Regions from separate parts of the Homo sapiens genome. Here region 2 is linked to region 1. Evidence: fine-mapped expression QTL. Tissue or cell type: nucleus accumbens. Region 1 holds a variant in brackets; the other region holds the start of a gene. All regions are shown on one strand. Distances are between the middles of the regions.

Evidence for each region. PIP is the estimated chance that this variant, and not a neighbour inherited with it, causes the effect.
Region 2: CHST7 starts here. The variant in region 1 is fine-mapped to the expression of CHST7 in nucleus accumbens (GTEx, PIP above 0.99).

The regions. Positions count from the first base shown.
Region 1 is chrX:46,203,398-46,209,183 of GRCh38, reverse strand. No RefSeq gene overlaps it. Among named protein-coding and RNA genes, the nearest start is that of LINC01186, 120 kb to the left of the region's middle. The variant TG/G (reference allele first, on the strand shown) is at 3,019.
Region 2 is chrX:46,570,727-46,576,512 of GRCh38, reverse strand. It overlaps CHST7 (carbohydrate sulfotransferase 7), which reads right to left and starts at 2,748. Exons shown (of 2, transcript NM_019886.4): 1 at 1,090-2,748. The coding sequence starts at 2,581. The coding sequence ends at 1,121. RefSeq lists silencers at 1,501-1,560, 1,681-1,730.

The DNA of each region.
Region 1 (5,786 bases):
TTGTTGAGCATTCAGGATTAGTTTGTTCAGCCTAGTGTAATAATTAATGTGTTTAAGTATGGTATAGTTGGGGGAGGTTTCTTCTCTAATCCATTGTTATTTGAAACCCTAGTCAGACATTTGAGAATTTGAAAGGACCCCTAAAGGCTTTTGTCTTAAATGTCTTTTCGCTTAAAAAAGAAAAAAAGAAAAAGAATAGATTTTAGTTTTAAACAAGAGAACACTGATCCATTTATGCCATTGTTTAAAATATTTTCTGTCATGTTAGTTGATGCCCTGAATCACTTTTAAAACTTCCCTTATTAAGTCATAGTTTATCCAGAAAAAATATAGTAAATCCTGAAGTGTCTGAAGTTTCCTTATATTTCCCAATGATGGATTTGAATAGGCTTTTAGCATGGTACAATTATTACTGGCTTCAGCGCAACTATATCACTAGGTAGCAAGTCTTGTGGCTGCAAGTGTCTTTGTTCTAAGGAATTGTACAATGAAAATATGATCTAATAAGGTAGTTATTCATTTACCACTTCCTGCTCATCAGCCCCAGCTTAGTGCTCAAGGCCCGCATGTTTCTAATTTCAATTTCAACTGCTGCAGAAGAGGCTTACTATAAAAAGAATTTAGAGTTAGCCAGGACTATTCTGGTGCCACAGACAAATTCTCACAATGCCACAAATAATGTAGCAATAAAGCAGGGACTATAATATGCTGCTATAGTTTAGTAGGTTGAATGGAGGTGAGGAAGTGGTGACAAGTGACTAAGGTGAGAGAAAGTTAAAGAGTGGTTGAGGTTGCAGAACTCTCCTTTAGTAGAAGACTGGCTTGATTTGATTCAATCTTCTGTTTCCTCCTTATGGACTTTCCTATTTGCCCCTCATTCCCTTGATCCTTCTTGTCCCTCCCATCTCCTTACCTTGAGTTGGTCATTTTCAGTTCTAGGGGCTCTCAAGCACTGCCATGGGGGACTGCATTGGTTGGTTCATCTTTCTACCCAGGCATACATTCATTCATTCACTAAACGCATACCAAGCGCCTCTTCTGTTTGTGGCTCTGTGCAAGGCACTAGGGATCCACCCTGAGTAGGACAGTTTCTGCCTTATGGAGAGACTAGAAGTAGGACCCCACAATTCGGATGAAGTAAATGGCTTCCAACCTTCAAAGAACTGCTTGCTGTAGTTTGGTTTGATGCATACTGGGTTTGGTTTGATTGCTAAAGGTGTGCAGATATATCTGTTATTCCTTCTTAAACTTATATCCTCAAAGGAGAGTGACAGCTTTCAGAGCAGAGACCTTTAGTGTCTCCATCTAGGACATTCATAAAAAGTAAGTCTGTGAGCCAAGAATAAATCTGAATTTTTTATTGAGGACTTGAGATCAGAACAGATCAAATGTTAGACTAACATCAGAACTAAAGATGACTGTCACAGTGTGAGGCCACCAGGGATGAGACTCTGAGATGGAGATCAGCATATAGGGTGTTTATTAGGAAGTGCTCTTGGAGCCAATACCTGTAGAAAGAAGGGGATGGAAACATGACTGGTTAGAGGGAGAGGTTAAACTGCTGGTCCCAATGAAGGCCTTGGCTGATCTTCTGGGAAGCTCTGGTATTAGGATGGCTCTTTAGAGCCGTCCCAAATTGAGGCAAGGGAGCTAGGCCTTTATACCAGCTGCATTGTTTAGACATTGGATGTGTGTTGCCCCTGTTGGACCTTGGGTATTTTTTTAGCCAAGGCAAGCCCTGAAAGTGGCTGAGAGCAGAGAGTGATCAACGGGCAGTACTAGCAGCTGGGAGAATAAGTTCTTCATTTCTGAAGGAGGATCTGGGCAGCACATTACAGGGTTCATTCACCACAACCACACCCAATCAGTGCTAGAGGACACTATGACAATTTACCTAGATCCAACAAAGCCAAGGGGTTCAGGCTACCTAGGAAGGACGTATCATTCCCCACTAGCCATTTGGAATGGTACAGTTAAAATATCTAACAAGTAAATTTCAGTCAATTGAGTAAATTTTTCTATACTTGTTTTTTTGTTCACTACACAGCTGATATAAAAGGAATGAAGTCCTTCCCCACTATCTAAATATGATACCACATTAGTAAGAGATTTCAATGTTTCTTCTTTTATAGGACTTCACAATGGAGATTCTTTGAGAAGAGATTTTTGATGGTATTTAAAAGGATGACTACAAGGAATGACAATGGTGTTTTTACACATATCTAGGGTGCCATATATTCTAGTTTGCCTGGGAAATACCTGATTTATGCCTTTGTTCCAGCATAATTATTATTAGCACACTTTTCACACTCAAAAGTACCCCTTTTGGGGGTGATAGATTATATGGTGACCTTACGAATCCCAGATAGAATTTCAATGTCCAAATGAGTGTTATGTTTCAGAATAGTCACATTGAAAGACCAAATAAACACTAATTCTGAAGATGCTTTCATTGACCCAAATATGTTTAAAACTATGCTGTTGGAAACAGTGGTGGGGTTACTATATGAAATAGTCATAAGAGTCATCCACTTCCTTTCAATCCCATCTCATTCTTCATTTTCCTCTCATCCTCTCACACCATTTTCTAAAAACCATTTTAAGAAGAAGCAATCCTGTTCCCCACACCAGAGTCATTCACCATGTCCATTGGACTTGGGTTTGATTAACTTTGTTTCCTAAATCAAAACTTTCCAAGGATGAGAATATGAGAATTTTCTACCACTGACTTTGCCTAAAATTGTGAACCACAGAAACATTCTCTCTCTCCCTCCTATATGTAATATCAAATAACATAACAACATAACATAATCAGAGCTGCTGGGATTGAAGGGGTTAATAAACAACACCCTTCTTACCCATGCCTAAGCTCTGTACCAATGAATATAGACAGAAGAGTAGGCTGAGGAAGATTCAAATGTTAGCTGTACTGACATTGGAACACATGGCATAAATGTGTAACAACAATGAATTTTCCAATAATGATAACTGTACCCACATTTTCTTCTTGTATGCCAT[TG/G]GATGAACTGGCAAGCCCATGGTCAACCGGTAGTGTGGCCAGCTCTCTACTGGAAGAGGTCAGTTGTCCTACTCCTATTTTTGTCAAACCACCTCCATGTTACCAACTTCTGCTTTGGTGGAGATGTCCTTTGACCACTGATAGGCAGGACAGATTTTGCCAATAGAAGGTTCCAAAATGGTTGAGAATGATAAATCAATTAGATTTACTTTAAGGTTGTTTCATGGCTGAAAATCCACCTTCTGTTTTACTTCGTCTCGCAAATTAGGTCCAACCACATTGTCCTACTCAGCCTAGTAGAATGTCTTCAGTGAGGTTAAATGATATCATAAAAATATTCCACCGAAATATATAGGGACAGCCCATATTCAAATATACATTTCCTCCTACTATTAATTACCCAGGGAGAATTAATGTGTCCAACTTTTAAAGAATCTAAAAATTAAAACTTCACATTAAAATCCAGAGATTATGGGTTTCGGTCCATTTCTTATTCTGCTCATTGTCAGCTAGAAAGGTTCTCAGTGTCTGGGCAGAGTTATCAATACCTCCAGCAACATGGCCCAAAATGCCTTTTGTAAGAATAGGTGTCATCTTCTTGGGTCCTAGAAGTTATATTAGCCATTCTTCTGTCTCTCTTTTAAAGACTTCAGATTGTCAATAGGAAATACAAATTATCACAACACTGGCTAAAATTAATTACTTCCAGCAATTTATAGCACTAGAGCAGTTTTCTCAAACCAAATGAAATCTCAGAACCTATCTAATCCTGGGTTACTACTGCCAAAGACATAATGGAGACTCAGTGGTATCTGAAGGAAAAATGAGGCAAAAACATTCTTCTGGGTTTCAGCTTCTCCAAAACACTAGACTAACTATAGGAGTTGTCTAGTGCCTGTGACCTGTGAAACTAAACTCTGGGGAAATCCCCTACCAAGAGGTGAATGTTGACACTGGGTATTTGCCATAACTTTCTTGGGAAATTCCTTGGTCATACTCTGAAATTGTCATTCTGGACATTGATGCCTTCTTGCAAAGTCTAAGTGTTTGTAATGATGCCAGTCACAGACTCCAGATATTATTTGAATTGCTCTTTTCTCCCCTAAACAATACACTTGGAATCTCTTAATTTCTATTTCCCCATGGCCCTGTGTGTCTAGGACTCTGTGCTGTATATAGATGGTATCTCTCTGCTGACAAGTCTCCTACTCTCTCTTATGAGAAGGCATTTTCAATTATGTGTCACACTGGCTGTGGTCATACGTCTTGCTGTGGAATTGCAGAGGCTTAAGAAGGCTACCTCTGAAGGAAGATGTCCCTTTCATTTTCATGTTTGTTGCAACTGGAGAGTTGCTCTCAACAGCTTATGAGCTGAATCTGTGGTTGCTACTTCTGGAACTTTTGCCCTTGTAGACCTCATGAAGATCAGGACCTTCTCAAGACCCAAGGCATGTGGATCTTGGAAATCTAGACCCATGGTCTGAACTTTGTGATGACGCGATTCAGAACCAAAAAGAGGCTACAGGGTTGGAATGACACCTGAGCCTGTGGCCTGTCCAGAGTTCCTCCTCACCCCTTGTTTGGAAACTCAAATTATTTTTTTCTATTTTCTTACTTAACAATCAACACAGAAGATTTCTGTGACCAAATGTGGGGAGAAGGGGGTTCTCCTTACCACCAGGTAAGCAATCAATTCGGCAGTGCACACCAGCTGGATGTCCTCCAATTCAAATTCAACACTATCTACCTGGAGATAGTGTCAGATCCCACAGATTGAGGGGTCAGTCCCCAAAACTGCCCCTCCCTCCTTCAGACAGCAGTACTAAGTCCAGGCCTCCAAAACTTGACAGACTGGCTTTAAGTTGGGGTTTCCACAACGCCCTCTTTGGGTTTGATTAATTTGCTAGAGTGGTTCACAAAACTCAGGGAAACACTTATGTTTACCAGTGTATTATAGAGGTTTTGCAAAGGATACAGATGAAGAGATGCATAGGGCTGGGTATGAGAGAAGCGTTGCAGAGCTCCCATGCCCTTCCTGGATGTCCCATCCTCTGGGAATCTCCATGTGTTCAGCTATCTGGAGGCTCTCTGGACCCTGTCCTCTAAGGTTTTTATGGAGGATTTATTACATAAGCATGATTGATGAAACAATTAGCTATTGGCGATCAACTTGACCTTCATCCTCCTCCCCGCTCCCCAGAGACTGGGGGCAGAGCTGAAAATCCCAACCCTCTAATCCTGCCTTGGTCTTTCCAGTGACCAGCCCCACCCTGAAGCTATCATTCAACATTAGCATATAAAAAGACAGCACCTTGGAGATTCCAGGAAATGGGGGTGGGGGTGGGGACAAGGACCAAATATATATTTCACAATGTCACAGCCCTGAATCCCTAGAACGGATTTTGGGCAGCTTACCCAGCACCAGATCAGGTGAAGGACCATCCCATCTTCAGAACTTCCTGCGGGATTGGCTGAGGCTTCTGTTGGGAATGAATCACAGCTCCACTTTTCTCCTCCCAATTCTGCATCCTTTCTTTCTTTCCTCTCCTATAGGAGTTGATTCCAAGAGCACTCCCTCCCAAAAGTCCTGCATGCTGATCTTCATCTCAGAGCCTGCTTCCCAGGGAGCAAAGCTAGAGCAACCCTGTGAAGGCTCACATCGTTGTTCCCACTGCCTGAGAGCCCCCACGAACACCTTTGCCTCATCTCCCAATACTGCTGATTGTCTCAACTTCCCCTCAGGCCAAGGGCCAGGCTTTGGGCACAG
Region 2 (5,786 bases), 370 kb before region 1:
CACATTTTGAGACTGTTTAAGCCCCACTTTAGCATCTTCAGATATACAGAAAAAAACAAAAAACAAAAATGGAAAAACAAAAAAGAGGGGGCAGTGTCTTTTCACAAAGCTCCTCCTGCAGTCACAAACTGCTACTGCCAATTGAAGGCTCCATCTGTCAAACGGATGGGGTGGAGTGGGGGACACCCAACCCTGAGGTCTTGTCGACACTAGAGGAAGCTGACCAGGCAGCTTTTGTGACCTGATGTGAATGGGATATGGTCAAATATCCTGCAAACGCCAGCTACAGGGAGAAGGGGGAAGGGAGAGGAGGAGGGGAAGGGGGAGGAAGAGGAAGAGAGGGAGAGGGGAAATGAGAGAGGGAAGGAGGGGGAGGGGAGACAGAGAGGCGCACATGAGCCAGGGGAAAGCAAGTCTATTCACTACACAAGCGCCTGAGACACACAATGTGCAAGAAGTGTTGCAAGAGCCGCTGGACTGTGCCTGCATGTTTGGAAATTCAGGAGAAAAGCCCTGGAGCCTGCGCATAAAACAGACAGAGAAGAAACATGAAACAGAAAGATTAGGGATAGGTAGGGTTAGAATCAATGCCTTTCCACCAAACTCTCTGCTTTTGGCTTTCTCTGTGCCTGTAAACACCATTGCAAAGTCTCCTCACAGGACAAACTGGCATCAAGATAACTCCATAATCATCAACCTCAAATGGTTTCCGAAATCCTATACTCCACATGTCAATTCCCAGTCTCACGGCTCATTATGACTGTTTCAAACCTTCTCTACTCTCCTCAGCCCTCTGAAACCTCCTACTTCATACAGGGGAATGGGAATGCAGAGACCTGGCTTCCACCTCAGTCACGCCTAAATATCCTCTCTCATCTCAGGATCTCCCTCTAAGGAGGCGCGAGGCTAAGCTGGAGATTCCGATGAATCTACCAAATTCTACGAGCAGGACTTTCCCATCCTCTTGGACCTGATCTGATAGAATGGGATCCAGCATGGTACCCTCCCCCCTACACTTCCCCCTCCCCAGGCCATTCCAGGCTCCCGGAAGACCAGTCCCGGTCCCTGCCTTGCCCCGGGCCACCTTACCCGGATCCGTGCCGGGGACAGGGATGGGAGGCTACGTGGCGCCGTCGGCATCCATCTCCAGCGGCGTCTCCCCTTCCCTGGGCTGCTCCGCGTCGCCCTCCTCTCCGCTGCGAGGGTAGGCGAGCAGACGCATGGCTGGAGCGCAGGCGGCCTCCACCTGGCGCACCTGCTCTCGGCTCAGGCGCTCGCGCCAGGCGTGCACCGCCTCCCGGGCGTCGCGCGCTGACAGGTGGAAGGGCCGGTCGGCGCCGTAGGCCGCGCCGCGAGTCATGTTGAGCGCGAAGGCATCGAGCGCTGCGAGCGCGCGTAGCCCGGAGAAGCGCAGCAGGCGGCGCAGCTGGGCGCGTGGCTGCCGCACCAGGTCCTCATAGCGCAGCCTCAGGTAGCGGCGCCGCAGCCAGGCGGGCGCGCCGCGCGCGAAAAGCAGATCGCGCAGCCAGGCTTCGCAGATCACCTCGAGCGCACCGGTCAGGAAGAAATCGGCGCGCGGCGCGGCGGGCAGCGCGCGAGACTGGCCCCCGGGGCGAGCACCCACGCCGTGCGCCAGCAGCACACGGTGGAAGCGGTCGCCCCTCTGGCGGGTGCGCAGCACCTGGATGCTCTCGCGCAGCAGTCCCTGCCTAGACTTGAGGCGCGAGTTGTGCACCGCCCTCGGGTCGCGGAAAAGCTGCACCACCTTCAGGTTGAGGCCTGGATCACGCAACAGGGGCACCAGCACGCCCAGATCGAGCAGGCGCACGTCCTTGATGACCACCACCGGGTACTTTCGGCACTCGGCCTCCAGGGCGCGTATCGCCACGGGTGGGCAGCTGCGCTCGCAGGCGGTGTCCTCGACGAGGCCCACCTCGGCCCGGGCACGGGGTGCGCCAGGACACAGTGGCGGCGAGCAGATGACCTTGTTAGTCCGCCAGCGGAAGAGGGCGGCCGTGGTAAGATTGGCCGTGTCCGGGGCGCGCGCAGCGGGGTCCCCCGGCGGCGCGTACAGCCGCAGCACGGAGAAGTCGCAGCGGAAGAGCGAACGCAGCATGTCGCGCAGCGCGCCCTGCAAGCTCTCGGCGTCGCCCGGATACAGCGCCTGCCATAGATGCCACATGGGCTCATACAAGTAGAAAACGTCCGGGTGCTGGTTAAAGAGTTCGCCCAGGAAGGACGAGCCGGTGCGCCAGGTGGCATGCACGTAGATGTGCTGCTTCTCGCGAGACACTGCCTCCCCGACAGCGCCGCTGAGGTTGCTTGGGAACCGAGGAGACTGGTTCGCGCCCCCTTCCTCGGCGGCCCGCGCCTCCGCTCCCTGCTCGCGTTCGCCGGCCGCCGCCGCCTCCAGGCTCCACACTCCCAGGCTGCGCTGCAGGCCGGGGCAGTGCTCGGCGCCCTTGTCCCCGTCGCGGCCGCCGTCCAATACGGAGGGGACGAGCAACAGCACCAGCGTGTACAGCACCAACAGCAGCGCGAACTTGCAGTACTCTCGGCGTCGCCGCCGCCGGCCCTTCATCGTTCACCGACCCTCCAGAGCGGGTCGGGCGCCAGTCTTCTCCCGTTCCTCAGAAATCCCGTGCCAGGTCCGCTCCTGTGGCCTCTCCCGGCCCCTCTGCGCCGGGAGGAGCAGAGCCGCGGGGCCGCGCATCCACAAGGGGAAACTTGGAAGGCGGTGGTGCTACTGACGGCGCCCCTGCCCTCTCGGCTTAGCAGCCGGAGAGCCGCCTATTGGCCGGCTTGGCAGCCGCCCGCCCCGCCTTTCTGCCCGCCTGGGTTCGCCCACGGCTCTGCCAGATCTGGGCGGGGCTGTAGCGGGGCTGGGACGCCGGCTTACCCAGCCAGACCCCCACCTTTCCCCAAACCCTCCGTAATGAAGTCTTCATCAATGACTTCAGGCAAAGGAGGGGCCTGTGTGTACAGAATGTACCCAGTAAAGGGCCATAGACCCCACCCGGAGAAGGTCACTGCCTCTTCTGTTTTATGTCCCCTGCCTAGCCATCGCTATCCTAGGCAGATAAACACTCGCCACTATACATCCAGCGCCCCCATCAGCCCTGGAGTGGGTGTTACTGAGTTCCGGACTGAAAGATAGAAGATTGTACGTGGCAGAGCGGTCCAGGGGGGTTGGAGATACTACTGCATCCACGCAGCACATTTCATAAAGTCTAGCCTTTGTGAAATTCTAAGTGTTGTGTTCCTTAGGGTTTCACCAGCTGATGGGCTCTGCACATTTTACCAATACTCTGGGGCCCAGTTTGGTCATTTGTAAAATGTGAATAATTCTTAGTACCCATGTACCTCCTGGGATTGCGAGATTTGGGGGTTGTTACCACAGTATAACCCAGCCTATTCTGACACCTATGAGCAAAAGACATTTACAGAATCAAAGTGGTAGAATGGTGACCTTTCTCAGGAGCTCGGTGTTTAAAAGGACCCGTAAGAAGAAATGTGTACCCAAAGATAGATGAAAAAGAGACAGGAAGTCCAACAGGCAGATGAAGACTAGAGTTACTAAAATTCAAAACAGAACCAAAAAAGATACATTTTGCTCTGTTTCATCAGGCTAATGAATAAGGAAGTGAGAGCTTCCTTTCACCAGCTTGGGGAAGGTGTTGTAAAGTTAATAAAACATAGAAAGCATATCTACTTATCTCCACCAGGGGAAGGTGTTCAAATTGGAAGAGTGAGAACATATGCAATGCTCTCCACTGGTCTTTTTCATCACGGAAGCTACTCCACCTGTGAAACCACTGACTCAAGCATTTCGTTTTCTTTCCACAATTCCCCTCTTCTTCCAGCCAGTTGTTCAAATCTTCCCTATTCTCCAACCTCCACTTTTTGACCACCACCCCCACTTTCTTCTCAATTTTTCATATTCAGCTGAAAGATGCCATACCATTATTTTAATAACACTCCCTCCAATAAGCTAAACTCACGTGCCCTCTGCCTTTTCATTACTCATCTAGCAAAATCCCCCAAACCCTGCTTTTGGCTTTCTCTGTGCCTGCAAACACCACTGCGAAACATTTCTCCACAGGTGTGAGCCAGGCACAGTGGCTCACGCCTGTAATCTCAGCACTTTGGGAGCCCACAGAACAGATCAGCATCAAGATAACCTCATAATCATCAACCTGAAATGGTTGCTGAAATCTTAGGTTCTTCATGTCACTTCCCAGTCTCCAGTTCCATTATGATGATTTCAAACCTTCTCTAGTCTCCTCAGACTTCTGATACCCCTCTTCCCCCACCCACCTCTTCTCAGCACATGACCTTACTGCCTACTTCATAAAGAAACCATGTTAGACGATCTCTCACTTTTCCACTACCAAACTCATATATGCATTGACCTCTGTACACATCTCGTTTATAGCAAGGATATGATTTTGCAATATTAATCTACAACTTTCCCTTCTGTTTTCACTTTTCCCTCCTCTCTGGCTTTTTTAAAAAGCTTTGAGACAGGGTCTGGCTCTGTCACCCAGGCTGGAGTGCGGTGGCACTATCACCACTCACTGCAGCCTCAACCTCTCAAGCCCAAGCGATCTTCCTACCTCAGCCTCCCAAGCAGCTGAGACCACAGGCATGTGGACCACACCCAGCTAATTTTGTTTGTTTGTTTGTTTTTTGTAGAGACCGGGGTCTGTATGTTGCCCAGGCTGGTCTTGAACTCGTGGGCTCAAGTGATCCTCCCACTTCGGCCTTGTGCTGGGATTACAGGCCTGAGCTACTGTGCCTGGCCTCCTCTCATCTTTTAAGCAAGTAGGTGGCTCTGTGCTGGTGTGAGGGGAGAGGTGTGGCTGGGCAGAATGCAAATAGTTGCTGGTGTTTCCCGCTTCCCCCCACCCCCCGCCCTCCGCTCCAAAAGCCTCAACTCTGATAGTGGAAAGTGTGATAGGTTTTTTAAATAACCACAAAGTATTCCCCTCCTCTGTTTTGCCTTTGGGCAATGCCTTCCCATACTGACTCTGGGATGACCATGTGGCTTGCATTGGCCTGTGGGACAGTAGCAAACATGACACAGCAAAGGTTTGAAAAATACTCCTGCTGTGGGAATTGCCCTCATCCTGCTCTTTGGAACCCTGAGATCGGCTCGTGAAGAAGCCTGGGTTAGCAACATGGCTCAGAAAATAAGCCCTCCCAGCTGAGGCCCCCCACCCCCCAGACAAACAAGCCTGCTGACCGCCAGACAGGTGAGAAAGGAGATAGATCCTCGACCAGTGCTTCTCAAACTTTAATGCTTGAAGGCTCCTGTCAAAATGCAGAAAGTGGGCCTGGCCCAGTGGCTCACACCTGTAATCCCAACGCTTTGGGAGGCCGACGCGGGTGGGTATCCTGAGCCTAGGAGTTCAAGACCAGCCTGGGCAACATGGTGAAACCCCGTCTCTACCAAAAACACAAAAAAAGTTAACCAAGCATGGTGGCGTGCACCTGTAGTCCCAACTACTTGGAAGGCTGAGGCGGGAGGATCACTTGAGCCCAGGAGGTGGAGATTGTAGTGAGCCGAGGTCATGCCACTGCACTCCAACCTGGGTGACAGAGTGAGACCTCATCTCAAAAAAAAAAAAAAAGCAGAAAATGATTCATTACACCTAGGGTGGGGCCAGAGAGACTACATTTCTTTTCTTTCTTCTTCTCCTTCTTCTTTCTTCTTTCTTCTTCTTTTTTTAAATAGACAGGGTCTTCTCTCCCTCTGTCACCCAGGCTGGTGGAAGGCTGGAGTG